Homo sapiens: one gene and its partner. The protein of the gene in region 2 purifies or fractionates together with the protein of the main gene of each other region. This does not show direct contact. Each region holds a gene or a part of one and is shown on either strand. Other genes may lie near its edges.

Region 1 (8,880 bases), on a different chromosome or scaffold from region 2:
GGAAATTAAGAAGAGCCTTAGCTACTGGGGGATAATCTAATTATTTCCCCCTGGCTTCTGAATATTTTATACATTCTGTTGATTACAGAGGTTCACACAAATCACAAATTAAAGCTGAGCATGCAACATAGAAAGCACAGCATAAAGAGGCAGAATTTGCTCCTCATTAGCCTGGTACATGTATAGATTAAAAGAACACTTCTGCCTAGTGATATAAAAAAAGATTTCAATCAACTGCTTTTTTTTTTTTTTTTTTTTTTGAGACAGAGTCTCGCTCTGTCACCAGGCTGCAGTGCAGTGGTGCCATCTCAGATCACTGCAAGCTCCGTCTCCTGGCTTCATGCCATTCTCCTGACTCAGCCTCCTGAGTAGCTGGGACTACAGGCACCCACCACCACGCCCAGCTAATTTTTTTGTATTTTTGTAGTAGAGACGGGGTCTCACTGTGTTAGCCAGGATGGTCTCGATCTCCTGACCTCGTGATCCACCTGCCTCGGCCTCCCAAAGTGCTGGGATTACAGGCATGAGCCACTGCGCCCGGCCTCAATCAATGTTTATTTGACAAATATATTCCCCATCTTAATGTCTGGATACATTCAATACTTTAAAAGCTGAGGCAACCTGAATGGCTGGTGCTGCCGAGAGCGCTTCGGTGAAACATATCATGCACATGTCATCGGCGTCTTGCTTCAGGCTTGTGGCACTTTTGTCACAGCCGTGTAGACAGGGCAGACAGTGCTCTTCGTTTTTAACACCCCCGCATGGATGGCCACAAGGATGCGTCTTACTACAGGCTATCTTAGCGTATTCCTGTTAAAGATGAATTACAATGTTACACAAGTATGTAAAAAAGCACACATTCTGGTAATTTTCCTTATTATATAAATTTCCAAAGATTACTTTCCCACAGGAAGTATCTATGCAGGCCAAGTAACAACAAAGTAAAGTTATTTCTAATCTTTGTTTGAATATAAATTAGGCTTCTTAACAAAGTTTTTTTTTTTTGATGCGATTTTTAAAAAATGCCACTCTCTATAAAGGGAATGCTGATAAGTGAATTATAATTTCATATTTGTCATCATGCACAGCTATAAAGCAAAAAGTTCCTGGCTGGGAGTCGTGGCTTACACCTGTAATCCCAGCACTTTGGGAGGCTGAGGTGGGCAGATCACGAGATCAGGAGTTTGAGACCAGCCTGACCAATATGGTGAAACCCCATCTCTACTAAAAATACAAAAATTAACCAGGCATGGTGGCGCGCGCCTGTAATCCCAGCTACTTAGGAAGCTGAGGCAGGAGAATCGCTTGAACCCGGGAGGCGGAGGTTGCAGTGAGCCGAGATCGTGCCACTGTACTCCAGCCTGGGCGACACAGCCAGACTCCGTCTCAAAAAAATAAAAAATAAAAAAAGTTCCCCAATGTATAATTTCCCAGTCACCACTCTCCGCATCACCAAAATGCAGATTTTTTTTTTTTTTAAAAAGGTACCTTTGACTCTCTGAGCATATCCACATTCTTATTAATTGAGAAACCAAAAACATTTGGACAACATAGAATATGTTTATATATGTTCAGGATTAAAGAACTCTTAGATGTTGAAAATGTATTTTAAGGAAATAAGTGAATAATGTCTGTAAGAGATAAAGGAAATACAGTTCATAAATTTTTAACTGTTTCTAGTACAAAAGTAGATATTAAATACATATGATCATGGTAACTGAGAAACATACAAAAAGAGTGTGGTTTGGGCTTGAGAGCCTTATTTGACCCATTCTTCAACTTTGGTAAGGCATTTGATGCTTCACATAGGTAATACACTCATTTAGGAAGCTGGAGTGACGCTGAGCTAAAACTCTTTTCTGTATGAAGTAAAGGTGTCACAGGGGAACATGGACAATGGGATGGCCTGTGTCACTATATACTCACCTGGCAATCTGCATCAGAACAAACACTGCCAACAGCAGATAACTCTGTTCCACTCCTGGAACCACAGAAGCGACATGCTTCTGAGCTACTCGTGGTGGGTTTGCCTAGGTTCAAGCAGAAAAATAAAAATCCTTCTTATGGATGTTTTCTAGATATGTTAACAGAACTAAATTTTAAAAAGCAAACTAGGTTTGTATAAGTTGCTATCCTTGGGAAATCAGCCTGACAGTTTTAGAACGGAAGGTTTCTAAGTTGTCCTAATTATAAAGTAAATAATGACACACAAAAAAAGAAATTAAAGACCTATCTGAAGCCAAATACACTCTCGACTAATATTTTTTTTCAGTGAAAGAAACAGACTAGACTTCTAGTCAAGTTACCAGACTGAGCAGCTGTTACAAGCCCCTGACTCCAAATGCACAATACCATAAAAAATATGATAACCAAAAATTAAATAAAAATACACAGAAGTTAGGGAAATCTTTAACTATATATAACAAAATTATAAGGCATGGTATAAAGCCTATCATCAGAGTATGAAACTTGAAAAACAGAATTCCTACCTCAGGAACTCTGCAATTTGAAAAGGAATTTAAATATGTTTGAAATACTTAAAGAAGAAACAGAATCAATAAAACAAGAACAGAGCAATAAGAAAAAGAACGTGAAGATTTGAAAATTACAGACCAAGCTGATTTTTAAACACAGATATAAAAATCTAACTATAATTAATATCAATATATTGAATTCAGCAATATTTACAGAAAAATCTATTTAAAAAGGATGGTTTACAAGGATGGTTTGACATTAGAACATTTATTAATGCAGTATACAGCACTGACAGATTATAGGAGGAAGAAATCAACTATGAGAAAAGAAGGTCATGCTCTTGCAGCATGCAAAGTCACCCTAGAATTAAATTGATTCGGATTTACACCTAACTCCAACACTGGAAGTTCGTGTCAGTCAAATGGCAGACTGCAGATGTGCTGAAAACTGAGAATTTGTAAGATTCAACATAACTTTGAACTAGGAATATACAAGATTTACTTTAGAAAAGCAGCAAAATGAAAACTATGTTTTAGAGATAAAAATACATTTAACATACATAGGTTACCTTTTGTTTTATGTCTATTCATTTTTGTTAATTATTTTATTGCTATCAATGGAAACAGTACCATTCACAACACCTTCAGAAGCATTAGGTCTACAAAAACCTCTAAATATCATAAAATCATACAACCTTATAATAAATAGAGATCTTAGTGATCATCTAGTGCAGCAATTTTTATTGTGGGGCAACAACTAGCAGAACTAGAAGGGAATTATCAATAGAAATGTATTTTATCTATGGAGCCCCATTAGTTGTGATCCTCTCACTTTATAAATGAAGTCAATGAGTTCCAGAGGTTAAGTGACTTGCTCGACACCACACAGCTAGTTAGTGGCAAATCAGGTTTCTTGACTTTTGGTCTAATGCTCTCTTCACCATAGAACACTCTATATATTTAGTAAATATATAGATCAATGATGTCATAATTAAACATCAGAATATCACTCAAAATTATTCACAGTTTAATCAGTTGGCACGGTTTAATCTTTTTTTGTGGGTTTTAAAGGCATGGCTCAATCTTTAAACCTTTTACCTGTGTGTTCTCGGAATTCCACCATTGCCTTCATTGTTTTAGAATCTGCCAGTGCCATCAACCAGAACAATTTGGTTCTACCACAACCTTCATGAAGGTCAACCTTTATAGCTTCTTCTTCTTCTTTGAAGACCTATTATTTCATTAAAGAACAGGGAAAAATATGCTTATTTATCACTCTGAAAGGGAGAGTATAAAATTTAATTATTCAATAATAATAATGGCTTTCATTTAAGCACTCTAAGAAGTTTTGAATATTTCCAATCTTCTCTTTAATCTTCACAGCAGTCCCTTTTTTATAAATGGAGAAATTAAGTGTTTCTAAGGATAAAACAACTTGCTATTTATAGATGGTAAGCGAGACAGCTGTGAACTCAACCAAGGTCTTTGATTCCAAAGTCCACTTTTTCCCCCTACTACACAAAGCCTCTTTCACACATTTATTTCAAAATTCACTGAACATATTTTATGCTCCAGAGACAAAAATCTTCACCTGTCTTTGATGAGTTTTGGTTCTTCGATGAAGGTGAAGGAATCTGTCACAGTCTGTACATAAATTTCCACAGACATTGCATAAAATGATTGCTGCAGTTTCACCATCATCATGGTTATCACACATAGGCTAAAATAAGACATTTCCACGTTACTTAGATTAACAAGCAAGTCTCAGACTCTCATACAAATTGAATATAATTTATTTACAAAAATAAACCGTTATTCGGAAGTCTATTAAGAATTTAGAATCTGAATATTAAACAGAATTATTGCAAATGTACTTAACTATAAAAATCTCTCAAAACTCCAAATCCAATCATTAATGTGCTTTGCAGGTTCAATGATTAATACAATGAACAGGTATACTTTGTTACTTAGAGACTTAAGAAATGTCTGCCCCATTATATATCTAAACATTCTGTATGCCAAAGGAAGAAACTGTTTATTTTTGAAACTTGAACATTAATAAGAAAATGGTGAAAGGGCCTATATAAAGTTTTCCTTTCTAGTGAACTTAAAGATACCCATCAAACCTACTTAAGTATATATGTGAACAGGTGGTGTGTCATGTTGCCTGTGTTATTGCTTTATTTCCTTCCTACCATAAGACTGATTACATTTTAGTAAAATATCTAGTCACTAAATCAGACTCTGGCTAAAAATAAATTTTGATATGATGCAAACATGACTCAGAGAAGAAGAAAGCTCTTTAATATACTTAAATAAAAGCCCCTAAAGTTTCCATATACTATGAAGTAGGGACTCTCTGAAATAGACTTGTGAGATGAACTTGGCCGAAGGGACACAATCTTTCAAGAGATCCACTAACTGTTTATGTTGATGTGTTTTTTGTTTGTTTGTTTGTTTTTAAGCTAAGCTAAAGCTTACTGTAAAGGAAAGCAAGATAAATTCTTACAAAATTCTGATCTTACCATTTGTTTTTGTTGTCCATCCTTTCCCATCCATCTCCCCGAGGAGAGACGATCTACGTGGTCCTGATCAAGAACACATAGGGATGCGAGAGCAAGCCAGAGCTGTTGAAAGGGAAGGCTGTTACACCACTGAATTTTTAGGAAAGACTTATGAAATGCTGACTGTGACACATCACAACAGCTCAATAAATGCTGGCTGATTTTGAAAATACATAGATACTCAGTGGCACTCAAGTCTTCCTGATGTGGTAGCAGGCATACACGATCACTGTCCTATGTGCCATGCACACAGGAGGCACTCAGATATCTACTGAACAAGTGACTGTTTCTCTGATGAACCACCCTGTCTTCTATCTGACAAATAAAATTATCCTTTATTGGTCTACTATGTAAACAACATATGAATAAATGAATTGGCATATTTAATATTTACTACTAATGTCTTCTGAATATTTTTCCATTTAGTATCATTAAATGCCAAAGAAGGTGGTACAGCAACTGCTAAATTGTGTACAGTCCCATGAGTAGTCAGGTACACATTAAATCCTTCTAGATAATAAAAGTTCCTCAGAAGTCTTTGTTGCCCCTTGTTGCCCCAGAAAGCCTAATACTATACTTGGTGCACTTTGTCAGAAATACATACATGTCTAAAAGCTTTAGAAAACTGTTCTCCAAAATAGGGCCGGGCACAGTGGCACATGCCTGTAATCCCAGCACTTTGGGAGGCCAAGGTGGGTGGATCACCTGAGGTCAGGGGGTTATGACCAGCCTGACTAACATGGTGAAACCCAGTCTTTACTAAATACAAAAAAAATTAGCCAGGTGTGGTGGTATATGCCTGTAATCCGAGCTACTTGGGAGGCTGAGACAGGAGAATCGCTTGTACCTGCAGGCGGAGGCTGCAGTGAGCCAAGATCGTACCATTGCACTCCAGCCTGGGCATCAAGAGTGAAACTCTGTCTCAAAAAAAAAAAAAAAAAAAAAAAGACAACTGTTTTCAGAAATAGTTAAAAATTTCTGAGGCTTAAAGGGTAAGCTTCAGTTTTATATAGAATGATATATCCCCTCATTAATGAAGAATAGAAAATGACTTAACTAGCTCAACTCTAAGAAGTGCATGTGAGTGTTATTGGATACAGAAAGCAAGAGATGTTAAAATAGGGACAGAAAAATAGAAAAAGAAATAATGCATGCAAGGAGGAAGGGGAATGCAGACTGAAAGAAAGCAACACATGAGTGGTAGGAAAGGATTACTGTCAAAAATACCTATTTCAGGTGTCACAGTCAATAATAGCAAGATAGCATAAATTGACTTTTTCCGCCCTAGGGATATATAGTTTATCTTCTTCAGATTTCTGAGGATTAACCTAAGCAATTTTTACCAGCATTCACTTCTTCCTAACGTTGTCAGACTGCCCTCCTTCAAGGAAATCTCAAATCTCTTCTGGAAGTATATGGGACATGAAATCTAGCAGGTTAAAACTTACTATAAATGTGTCATCTGAAGAATGCAATCTCATTTCCTCAAAGATTTCCACCCTGACCCTGCCCTGGACAAGCACTTCTTGCTTTTTAGAAGTAAGACCTATAAATCCTGTAAGTAAGTTACAGGGCTCTACATTAGGAACAACCAGGCATAGGCAGGGGTCTTGTCTCCAAAGGACCTTCGGTCTATCACAGCATAATGCTGGCACTAAACTTACTGTGGTAAACTACAGCAAACAGATCATTAGAAAGACAACACGCAAACAATGTACAATGTAATTAGCCTTTTCTAACCAGTGTACCCTTGGCTTCCTAAACAATAACAAAAACAAGTGACACAGAACACATAACAGTGAGAAGTAACGACTAGTTCATAATATAAAAGCCCTTTATACTTTTTCAATAAATACGGTATTTGGTTAAAAAATAATTATGTTGACTTAGTGATTAAAATTTGTTTAAATCTATTACTAAAAAAGAACACGCAATGATACACACCAAATTTAAAACAAAACAAAACAAAGCAAAACCTACTCTAGTTGTTGCAATACATCTCACTGGAGACCTAAATTCTTCTTCCATCTTGGTCAAGGCAATGATGGTTTCTGCAATAGCATTTTTTGTCACTCGGGACCAAGCTTCTGACAGATGACCCTATTGAGCAGAACAGAGTATTTTAATAAGTGACCAGAAATGTATTACCATAGTAAACTCTTTTTTCTTAAATAACATCTCCTATCAAAGGAAATATTTGTTTTTAGTGAGACCATGGAATTTTAGATTATGGGCACAAACTTTTGAACTAAAATTTCTTCGTGATCCTATGGAAAATTCAACTTCTAATCATCATTTTGATATTTAAAAATAAATAAATAAAAAATTAAGTTCTCAATACTCTTTTCCTGGAAATCAAGGGCAATTACTCTCACATCTGATAAAAACATAACAGAAATACTAAGGTTATCTATGTTTGAGAAGTTTGTCACTTAGCATAAAATTTACACAGTGAAGCTAACTGCTTTAGATGAGTATTACAGGAACCTAAAATATAAACAGGTTCAAACTGCAACTACCTTTATTTGCTACCTTGATTTGTAATGAACAAACATTTAACTATCATATAATTTAGGTGTTCCTAAATATTACTCCTAAATATTTTAATTCAATGAACACCCTGAGAAAGTCTGTTTGCCACAGAGGTTGAGAAAATATCCACGCTGTTGGGAAAAGTGATAGAACTTCATCTTTCCCCCAGAAAATCCTCCCACTTCTCATATCCACATGATTTAAGGGGCAGTTCAATTCCTCCTCCTTCTCCAAGCTGCCTTCTATTCCTTCTGACTCTACATTCCATACTATCTTGTCCTTCTCAGGCTGCCCTCCTAGAAATAATACAATGTGTGGAAAATGACAAGGAGCAACTAATCAGAGCCAGGCATTCTGTAAAGTAACTCCCTGTCCTCCACACTCCCAGATCTCCTTTGGAAGCCACCATCTTAAGACAGAGGGTATATGACATTAATAAAGAAGAATAAAGGGTTTAAAAACCATGAGGACTGAGGAGAATGAGAAACTTCCACTTTCGAGAGCTCTCTTCCTCTTTTTTTCCTTTAGGTTTTTTGAATCAAGTTCTTTCTTAGGGTCTGAAAGAGCATATTTTATTTTATTAGATTTTAAAGTCACGTAACAATTCCCACACAAATTAACTGGAAAATTTGAAATGAACATGGTTTACATAAATGACAAATTATCACTCACTGAAAAGACAAACAGCATGATAGTTAACATACTACAAATAGTCTTTAAGTAAAGTTACACTAATCTACATCTCCTATCAATTCAGCAGAGTAAGCTGTTTTGTGTCAGCTTCCTGCCGCACTTCACTGCCAAAACAGAAGAATGGGAACTTACTGCTGCCATATCCTTGATAAGTTTAATGATGATCTCTGAGATCTGGGTAGGGGTTGAGCCCTTCATCCACCAATGACTTTCACCTCGTCGGAGATAACTACAAGAAAAATTAGCACTTAAAAAGCCAATAAATTATCAGTAGTAGTAACAAATGAAAAAGATGAAAATGTTATTTCAGAATGCAGCATTTTAGATTTTTAAGTGACTGAATCAATTAAAACATTTAAAAAGAAAATTCATCAAACCATTACCCCAAATCCCAAGACAGCAGTTAAGGTTATTTGAGTTCCCTTTCAAGTATTTCTCTGTTTGCACATTATTTCTGTGTGCATCTTTTAGAAGTACAGTCCAGGGACCACACACGACTTATTTCTAGGGCACATGCGGATAATGTGGAGCTTAACCGGAATATAAATTCACTGTATCACTAAGCACACTACTATTTAGTTCAGCTGACTTTTTTCCTAGCAAGACTACAGGAAAGA
Region 2 (9,563 bases):
CCAGGATTCATAGGTCCAGGAATTAAAGGATGGAAATGGGAATAGCACAATGCACAATTACCACTAGAGACCCCTGGCCACTTTGGGATCCTCAGGGCTCTGTGTCGGCAGGCGAAGAAAGAAGTTACTGTGCTGGCTGGGGTGATTGATCCTAACTAGCAATGAAAAATTGGAGGCCGGGCATGGTGGCTCATGCCTGTAATCCCAGCACTTTGGAAGGCCAAGGCAGGCAGATCACCTGAGGTCAGGAGTTCACGACCAGCCTGGCCAACATGGTGAAACCCCATCTCTACTAAATACAAAAATTAGCCAGCCATGGTGGCGCATGCCTGTAATCCCAGCTACTCAAGAGGCTGAGGCAGGAGAATCATTTGAACCTGGAAGCCAAAGGTTGCGGTGAGCCGAGATCATGCCATTGCACCTGTAATCCCAGCTACTCAGGAGGCTGAGGCAGGAAAACGGCTTGAACTGGGGAGGCGGAGGTTGCAGTGAGCCAAGATCGCACCACTGCACTCCAGCCTGGGCGACAGAGCAAGACTCCATCTCAAAAAAAAAAACAAACAACAACAACAATAAATAAATAAATAAAAATACAAAAATTAGCTAGGCATGGTGGCGCACACCTCTATTTCCAGCTACTCAGGAGGCTGAAGCAGGAGAATCGCTTGCACCCAGGAGACCAAGGTTGCAGTGAGCTGAGATTGCACCATTGCACTTCAGCCTGGGTGATAGAGTGAGACTCCGTCAAAAAAAAAAAAAAAAGAAAAAGAAAAATTGGAATATTACTTCACAATGGAGGTAAGTATGAGCATATCAAGGAGATTCCTTGATATACTAAGGAAGATTCCTTAGGTCATCTCAGTATTACTGTGACCTGTGATTAAGGTCAATGGAAAACTAGAACAAAACAATCCAGGACTACTAATGGCCCAGACCCTTCAGAAATGAAGCTTTGAGTCAGTCCATCAGGTAAAGAAACAGGTCAACACCTGTTAAGGTGCTTGCTGAAGGCAAAGGGAATAGGATAGTAGTAGAAAACGGTAGCTATTAATACCAGCTATGACCACGTGACCAGTTATGGACCCTAGGACTATGATTGCCATGAGTATTTCCTCATTTTGTTATTTATATGTTTATGTGTGTGTATATCAAGCAAATATCTTCATTTTCTTTTCTCTTTTATTCCCTCATAATGTAACATAAGATGTATTAACTTTATGTCATAGTTTTAAGTATTATTAATTTTGCATCATAATATCTGAGTTATGGGATATGAAGAAGAGTAAACATCACTCAAGGATTTTACCTCCTCTTCTGAGGAAGGGATTAGTGTTTTATTTTTCTTTTTGAGACCGGGTCTTGCTCTGTCACCCAGGCTGGGGTGCAGCATCAATGCAAAGCTTCGAAATGCAGGCTCAAGTGTTCCTCCCACCCCAGCCTCCTGAGTAGCTGGGACTACAGGTGTGTGCCACCATGCCCAGCTAATTTTTTTTTTTTTTTGAGACAGAGTCTTGCTCTGTCGCCAAACTGCAGTGCAGTGGCACAATCTCTGGCTCACTGCAACCTCCGCCTCCCGGGTTCCAGCAATTCTCCTGCCTTAGCCTCCAGAGTAGCTGGGACTACAGGCGTGTGCCACCACGCCCAGCTCATTTTTATATTTTTATGAGGGGTTTCACCATGTTTGCCAGGATGGTCTCGATCTCTTCACCTCGTGATCCGCCCGCCTCGGCCTCCCAAAGTGCTGGGATTATAGGCGTTAGTCACTGCGCCCGGCCTGTAATGGTTAATTTTATGTGTCAACCTCACTGAGCCACGGAGGGCCCAGACATTTGGTCAAACATTAATCTGGAGGTCAGGCACAGTAGCTTGTGCCTGTAATCCCAGCACTTTGGTTGGCTGAGGTAGGAGGATCGCTTGAAGCCAGGAATTTAAGACCGGCCAGGGCATCATAGCAAGACCCAGTCGCTACAAAAAAATTAAAATAAAAAAAAATAGTTGGCTGGGCACGGTGGCTCACGCCTGTAATCCCAGCACTTTGGGAGGCCAAGGTGGGTGGATCACCTGAGGTTAGGAGTTCCAGGAGTTCGAGACCAGCTGGCCAACATGGTGAAACCCCGTCTCTACTAAAAATACAAAAATTAGCTAGGCGTGGTGGTGGATGCCTGTAATCTCAGCTACTCCGGAGGCTGAGTCAGGAGAATTGCTGAAACCTGCGAGGCGGAGGTTGCAGTGAGCCAAGATCATGCCATTGCACTCCAGCCCAGGCTGACAACAGCAACAGCAAGACTATGACTAAAAAAAAAAAAAAACACTGAGTATGGTGGTGCACACCTGTAGTCCCAGCTACTCAGAAGGCTGAGGTGGGAGGATCCCTAAAGTCCAGGAGTTCGAGGTTGCACTGAGCTACAATTGCATCACTGTACTCCAGCCTGGGTGACAAAATGAGTTTTCTGTCTAAAGAAAAATAAACAAAAAAAAATTATTCTGGTTTTGTCTGTGAGGGTGTTTCCAGATGAGATTAATATTTGAATTGGATTGAGAATTAATTAGTGGTAGATTGAGTAAAGCAGATTGCCCTTGTAACATGGGTGAGCCTCATCCAATCATTGAAGACATGAATAAACCAAAAAGGCTGAGTAAAAGCAGCTCCTCCTGACTAACTGCCTAAGCTGAGGCAGTCTTTTCTGGCCTTCTGACTCAGACTGAAACTCAGACTCTTCTTGGACCTTGAGCTGGCTGGCTTTTAGTCTAGAACTACACATCGGTTCTCCTAAATCTCCAGGTTGCTAATTGCAGATCTTGGGACTTCTGAGCCTCCAATAATAACACCGATTGCTTATAATAAATAAATACACACATCCTATTGGTTCTGTTTTTCTGGAGAGTTCTGAGTAATGTATTATATTTCATATTTAAAACAACTTTATTGGGGCACATGTTGCATATCACATAATTCGCTTTTTTTTTTTTTTTTTAAATACGGAGTTTCGCTCTTGTTGCCCAGGCTGGAGTGCAATGGCACGATCTCAGCTCACCGCAACCTCCGCCTCCTGGGTCCAAGCGATTCTCCTGCCTCAGCCTCCTGAGTAGCTGGGATTACAGGCATGTGCCACCACGCCCAGCTAATTTTGTCTTTTTAGTAGCGATGGGGTTTCTCCATGTTGGTCAGGCTGGTCCCGAACTCCCGACCTTAGGTGATCCAACATGGTGAAACCCCATCTCTACTAAAAATACAAAAAATTAGCCGGGTGTGGTAGCGGGTGCCTGTAATCCCAGCTACTTGGGAAGCTGAGGCAGGAGAATCACTTGAACCTGGGAGGTGCAGGTTGCAGTGAGCCGAGACTGTGCCACCTCACTCCAGCCTGGGCAACAGAGAAAGACTCAGTCAAAAAAGGAGAGAGAGAGGGAGAGGGAGAGAGAAAGAGAGAAAGAAAGGAAGGGAAGGGAAGGGAGAAGAAAAGAAAGTAATCTACTTTCTGTCTTTATAGCTTGGCCTTTTCCGGATATTTCATATAAATGGAACCATACAATATGTAATCACTTGTGTCTGGCTTATTTCACTGAGCATAGGGGTTTTTTTGGCCGAACATGGTGGCTCACGCCTGTAATCCCAGCACTTTGGGAGGCCGAGGTTGGTGGATCATTTGAGGTCAGGAGTTTGAGACCAACCTGGCCAAGATGATGAAACCCCGTCTCTACTAAAAATACAAAAATTAGGCAGGCATGGTGGTGACACCTGTAGTCCAGCTACTCGGGAGGCTGAGGCAGGAGAATTTCTTGAACCCGGGCGGTGGAGGTTGCAGTGAGCCGAGATCACGCACTGCACTCCAGCCTGGGTGACAGAGTGAGACTCCAGTCTTAAAAAAAAAAAAAGGGTTTGTTTGTTTTGTTTTTGTTGTTGTTTCTTTTTGATACAGGGCTGCTCTGTCACCCAACTGGAGTGCAGTGGCTTGACTATGGCTTGACCTCTGGGGCTCAGGTGATCTTCTCACCTCAGCCTCCTGGGGTAGCTGGGACAACAGGTACGCACCACCACGCCCAGCTAACTTCTTTTGTATTTTTTGTGGAGAAGGGGTTTCGCCACATTGCTCAAGCTAGTCTCGATCTCTTGGGCTAAAACGATCCTCCCGCCTCGGCCTCCCAAAGTGCTGGGATTACAGGTGTGAGGCACAGCGCCCAGCCTGCATATTCTTTTTGAGGTTCATCCACATTGTAGCTGGTATCCATAGTTTGTTCTGAATAATATTCCATTGTATGGACATAGCATATTTTGTCTACTCATTCACATGTTAATGGACATTTAGGTTGTCTCCAATTTTTCCAACTGGGCTATTATGAGTGAGACAGATAAGAAAATTCCTGTGCAAGTTTTTGTGTGTATACATGCTTTCATTTCTCTTAGGCAGATCCCTAAGAGTGAAATTATTGGGTCACATGGTAAATTTATGTTTAACATTTTAAAAAATTGCCAAACTGTTTTCCAAAGTGGCTACACCATTTTACATTTCTACCACCAATATATGAGGGTTCTCGTTTCTCCACATTCTCTCCAACACTTATCTTTTTAAAAAAGGTTTTTGTTGTTGTTGTTGTTTGCAGTTTTTACAGTTTTATTTAAACAGAAAACATACACATGAGCTGTCTACTCATTTTCTTTGCTGCGCAGCCTGGGATTGGGGTTGGTGACTCTGACGGCCAGCTGGGCAGCTCTTTTCCACGATGGCTTTGCGGTTCTTGGAGGAAACATTGTGAGCGATCTCAGCACAGTAAGATTTGTTGCACAACAGCAGCACTTCCAGCTCCTTGACGTGTGGACCAGGAATTTCCGGAAGCCACTGGGCAGCATGTGCTTTGTTTTCTTGTTGCTCCCATAATCAATGTTGGGCATCAAGATCTAACCCTTGAACCTTCCACGAACCCTGTTGTCAATACCTCTGGGTTTCCGCCGGTTACGCTTAATTTTGACATATCGGTCAGACTGGTGCCGGATAAACTTCTTGGTTCTCTTTTTGACGATCTTGGGCTTCCCAAGGGTTCTGAGGACGGTTTATAAAAGTGCACTGAGGGGAGGCTGAGACAGGAGAATTGCTTGAACCCGGGAGGCGGAGGTTGCAGTGAGCCGAGATCGTGCCCATCCTAGGCGACAGAGAGAGACTCTATGTCAAAAATAAATAAATAAATAAATAAATAAATAAATAAATAAATAAATAAAATGCACTGAGGAGACAGATTTTTGAGAGTTAAAAGGACCCTCTCAAAAACCGACCGCGGTCCTCCACTGGGTAGGGGGCGCTCCAAGACAGGGACTCTTCTAGCCTGTTGCCTCTCCATGTTAGCGATATCCTCGTTGCTAGGAGACTAGACGCGTCTTACAGTGGGAGAGCTCAGCCTCACTGATAGCCGGGGATCTCTCCTGTTCGAGGGCTGAGATCTCCGGTCCCACAACCGCCCACAACCAGGGGCACTTCTGGAAGTCCCCTTTCTAGGGACATTTTTCTTCTAAGCTCTGTAACGCGGGCCGAGGCAGACCGAGGCTTCTTTCCCGGATCCAATCCCCTGCCCCCATGCCTAAGAAAGAAAAAATGGCCAAGACGCCCCTGTCCGATGAGAAGCAGCTGCTTCTGTTTCAGCAGAAGTTGCTGGCAGAGGAGGAGATGGCCAAAAAGAAGGAGAGGCTCCTCAGCCAGTTCTTGAAGGTGATGGCCTTTTGCATTATGTCCTGCTCAACCCCATCCACCCCCTGCCCTGGCCCTGTCACTGAGGAAACCTCATTTTCATCCTGACCTCCCCTCCTCCGGAAATCCTGAGACCCAGATATACTTAGATTTCAGGCAACATTGTTTGGGAGGCGGGGGTGTTCTCTGCGAAGCACGGAGGGGGTGCGTGGTATACGGCTTGGCAATCTTTACTGAATCCCAGAACTGGGACCGTAGGTCCTGTCAGCTGTTCCAGCTGTCTGGAATGCTGATATTCTCCCTGGAGATAGGTCATTACAAACAACATCCTACTCTGATGCTCCCACCCTGAAGGAAATTCACCCTTGCCCTCCCTAAATGCCATCAGGCCGTTCCCATCGAAAAGGGGTAAGGTGTCAGCTGATAAATTAAGAGTGATCTTGTTTGTTGTACTGAAAGGCCCTGACTTCCTGGAGGTATATTTATTCCTTCACACAGGACAAGCTGGCCAAGGAGGAACACAACAGTGCTCTGAACCTTAATAAGATTAACACACAGTGGAGAACTGTCCTTCGGGAAGTCAAGACCAGAGAACTTCATAAGGACATTGAGATCCTCAGCCAAACATTTGAACGAGTGGTGGACTGTAAGGACAATGTCATCAAGGTAGGCACTCTTTCCAAGGAAACCTTGAGTATGGCTTCCTGACCTCTTAATAGAATGAGCCTAGTGAATCCATCTTAAAGCCCTCACAAGACACAGGCTGTGAGAAAGCCAGGCTATTGGTAATAATGGTTTTCACAGAAATAAAAAATAGAATATTGGGCTTTCATCCCTCTCTCCCTTAGAGGACCCACTCTTCTTGTCATCTATTGCCCAAAACCAGTACTATCCAATAGTAGAGTCATAAGGCACAGTAGACATCACCCAGTGACTTGAAATGAGTCCCACACCTTCATTTCAATGTCAGAAGGCTCAGTTCCAGAGGGGAACTGACTTGCCCAAGGTCACATAGCTAGTCAGTGAGAGAACCAGGACTCCAGCATGTGTTTATTGATTCCCACTGCAGTGCTCCATTCAACTAAATTGTTTGGCCTCTTGATTCAACTTCAGTGGCCCTGGATAAGGTTGAGAAGATCTCCATGGGTAAGAGCAGTTCTGGATTTCTAAGCAATTCAATCAGCCATCCTTATGCTCTTGGGAGGTTCTTGAGTTCTTGATTCCATCCTATCTTTTCTTCTAAGGGATTTTCTGTACCCCTTCTTTTGTCTTACTTTTAATATTCTGCCTCCATTTACTGCCTTCTCCTTAGTCTTTTCCATTATTTATTTATTTATTTATTTGACATGGAGTCTTGCTCTGTTGCCAGGCTGGAGTGCAGTGGCACAATCTCGGCTCAGTGCAACCTCTGCCTCCCAGGTTCAAGTGATTCTTCTGCCTCAGCCTCCCGAGTAGCTGTGACTACAGGCATGTGCCACCATGCCTGGCTAATTTTTGTATTTTTAGTTGAGATGGGGGTTTCACCATGTTGGCCAGGATGGTCTCGATCTCCTGACCTTGTGACCCACCCGCCTTGGCCTCCCAAAGTGCTGGGATTACAGGCGTGAGCCACTGCACCCAGCCAGAGTCTTTTCCATTTTCAACAAAACAAAGCCCACAGTAACAGCAAAATATACATTGCCAACATGGTATTCCCCCTCTAGAAAACACACATTTCTCTTTCATAGCCTAATCCCTGGGGAAAGAGCTCAGCAGACCCTGGGCAGCTTCCAGAGATAAATATTAAGAGTCCTCAAATTTGCAATAACCATTATTCATTAGAAGTCCACATACCCCACCAGTTACACCTTATGGATTTTTTTTTTTTTTTTTTGAGGCAGAGTTTCACTCCTGTTGCCCAGGCTGGAGTGCAATGGCGCAGTCTTGGCTCACTGCAACCTCCGCCTCCCGAGTTCAGCCTCCTGAGTAGCTGGGATTACAGGCATGTGCCACCACGCCCACTAATTTTGTATTTTTAGTAGAGATGGGGTTTCTTCATGTCGGTTAGGCTGGTCTTAAACTCCCGACCTCAGGTGATCCGCCCGCCTCAGTCTCCCAAAGTGCTGGGATTACAGGCATGAGCCACCACGCCCAGCCACTGAGGAGTTTCACTCTTGTCACCAGGCTGGAGTACAGTGGCGCGATCTCGGCTCACTGCAACCTCTGCCTCCTGGGTTCAAGCGATTCTCCTGCCTCAACCTCCTGAATAGCTGGGATTACAGGCGCCCACCACCAAGCCCAGGTAATTTTTGTATTTTTAGTGGAGACGGGATTTCACCATGTTGGCCAGGCTGGTCTGGAACTCCTGACCTTAGGTGATCCACCTGCCTCGGCCTCCCAAAGTGCTGGGATTACAGACGTTAGCCACCGCGCCCAGCCCATACCTTATGGATTTTTAAGAGGCTTTTTCAGACACTTATTGGAAGTTATCAAACACTTGATAAGAGGGCCAGGCACGGTGGCTCAAGCCTGTAATCCCAGCACTTTGGGAGGCTGAGGCAGGCGGATCACGAGGTCAGGAGATCGAGACCATCCTGGCTAACATGGTGAAACCCCATCTCTACTAAAAATACAAAAAATTAGCCAGGCGTGGTGGCGGGCACCTGTAGTCCCAGCTACTCGGGAGGCTGAGGCGGGAGAATGGCGTGAACCCGGGAGGTGGAGCTTGCAGTGAGCAGAGATTGTGCCACTGCACTCCAGCCTGGGTGACAGAGCGAGACTCCGTCTCAAAAAAAACAAAACAAAACAAAAAAACACTTGATAAGAACAGCAGTGTTCATTGCCTAGTGTTCCATTATTGGAATGCTAAGTTTGTGGGAGTTATGTATCTCGTACTGTTCAAGGTCATCGCCAAGATCTGATTTTTCACAAAAAATATTTGCAACCTCAGGCATGAATGGGTTAAGGGAAGCTGAGTAGTTGGCCAGGTTCACCCCGAGACAATTAACTTCTTCCTACACAGCAGCCTTGCAGCTTATGATAACAGTTCTTGCTTAGGTAAATCACACACTGTTAATATTAACCACCTTCAGGGTCATTCCTGAATGAGACTACACATATTAAATGTGGAAATGTTAGTGATCCTCACTATCTCTACTTCTTCACTTCCATTTTACCCTGTATCCCACAGCATCTGATTTCTACCCTTCTCTAGGAAACTGCTCAGGTAAAGGCCACTGGTTCAGAATTGTGGCTACTTTTCATCATTTAGTCTTTATCTAACCTAACCTCTCTATGGCACTGACATTCTTGGTCATGCCCTGGGTCTTGAAATTCTCCTTTGGCTTGCATGACACCATTCTGTCATTTTTCCTACCTCTGGGACATAAATCAGTCACTCCAGTGAGTTTATCTTCCTCTCTCCATCCTCTGAACTTCAGCATTCCCCGGATTTCTGAGTCTGGCCATCTCACCCTTTAACCAGTTTTCTAGGGCCAATCTTACACATTACCCTGGCTTTATTTTATTTTATTTTTTGAGACAGAGTCTCACTTTGTTGTCCAGGCTGAAGTGCAGTAGCACAATCATAGCTCACTACACTCAAGCTCCTGGGCTCAAGTGATCCTCCCACCTGAGCAGTTGGGACTACAGGCTCTCACTATGACTGGCTAAATTTTTAAATTATTTTAATTTTTAGTAGAGACAAGGTCTCGCTGTGTTGCCCAGGCTGATCCTCCCACCTCACCCTCTGGAGTAGCTGGGACCACAGGAGCATACCACCTCACCTAACAAATTTTTAAATTTTTTATAGAGATGCAGTCTCGTTATGTTGCCCATGCTGGTCTTGAACTCCTGGCCTCAAGCAGTCCTCCCACTTCGGCCTCCCAAAGTGCTAGTATTACAGGCATG

What was found.
Region 1: the proteins of DRC2 (region 2) and MYCBP2 purify together in Homo sapiens (affinity purification with mass spectrometry; 2 studies listed by BioGRID and IntAct, with this or other methods). This does not show direct contact.

What each region holds. Positions count from the first base shown.
Region 1 is NC_000013.11:77,057,597-77,066,476, forward strand, and holds part of MYCBP2 (E3 ubiquitin-protein ligase MYCBP2), read right to left. Parts: intron 8,493-8,880; coding exon 8,396-8,492; intron 7,139-8,395; coding exon 7,019-7,138; intron 5,102-7,018; coding exon 5,000-5,101; intron 4,195-4,999; coding exon 4,066-4,194; intron 3,706-4,065; coding exon 3,573-3,705; intron 2,031-3,572; coding exon 1,927-2,030; intron 811-1,926; coding exon 622-810; intron 1-621. UniProt on the Homo sapiens protein: Atypical E3 ubiquitin-protein ligase which specifically mediates ubiquitination of threonine and serine residues on target proteins, instead of ubiquitinating lysine residues.
Region 2 is NC_000012.12:48,898,773-48,908,335, forward strand, and holds the start of DRC2 (dynein regulatory complex subunit 2), read left to right. Parts: upstream 1-5,360; 5' UTR 5,361-5,564; coding exon 5,565-5,696; intron 5,697-6,173; coding exon 6,174-6,341; intron 6,342-9,563.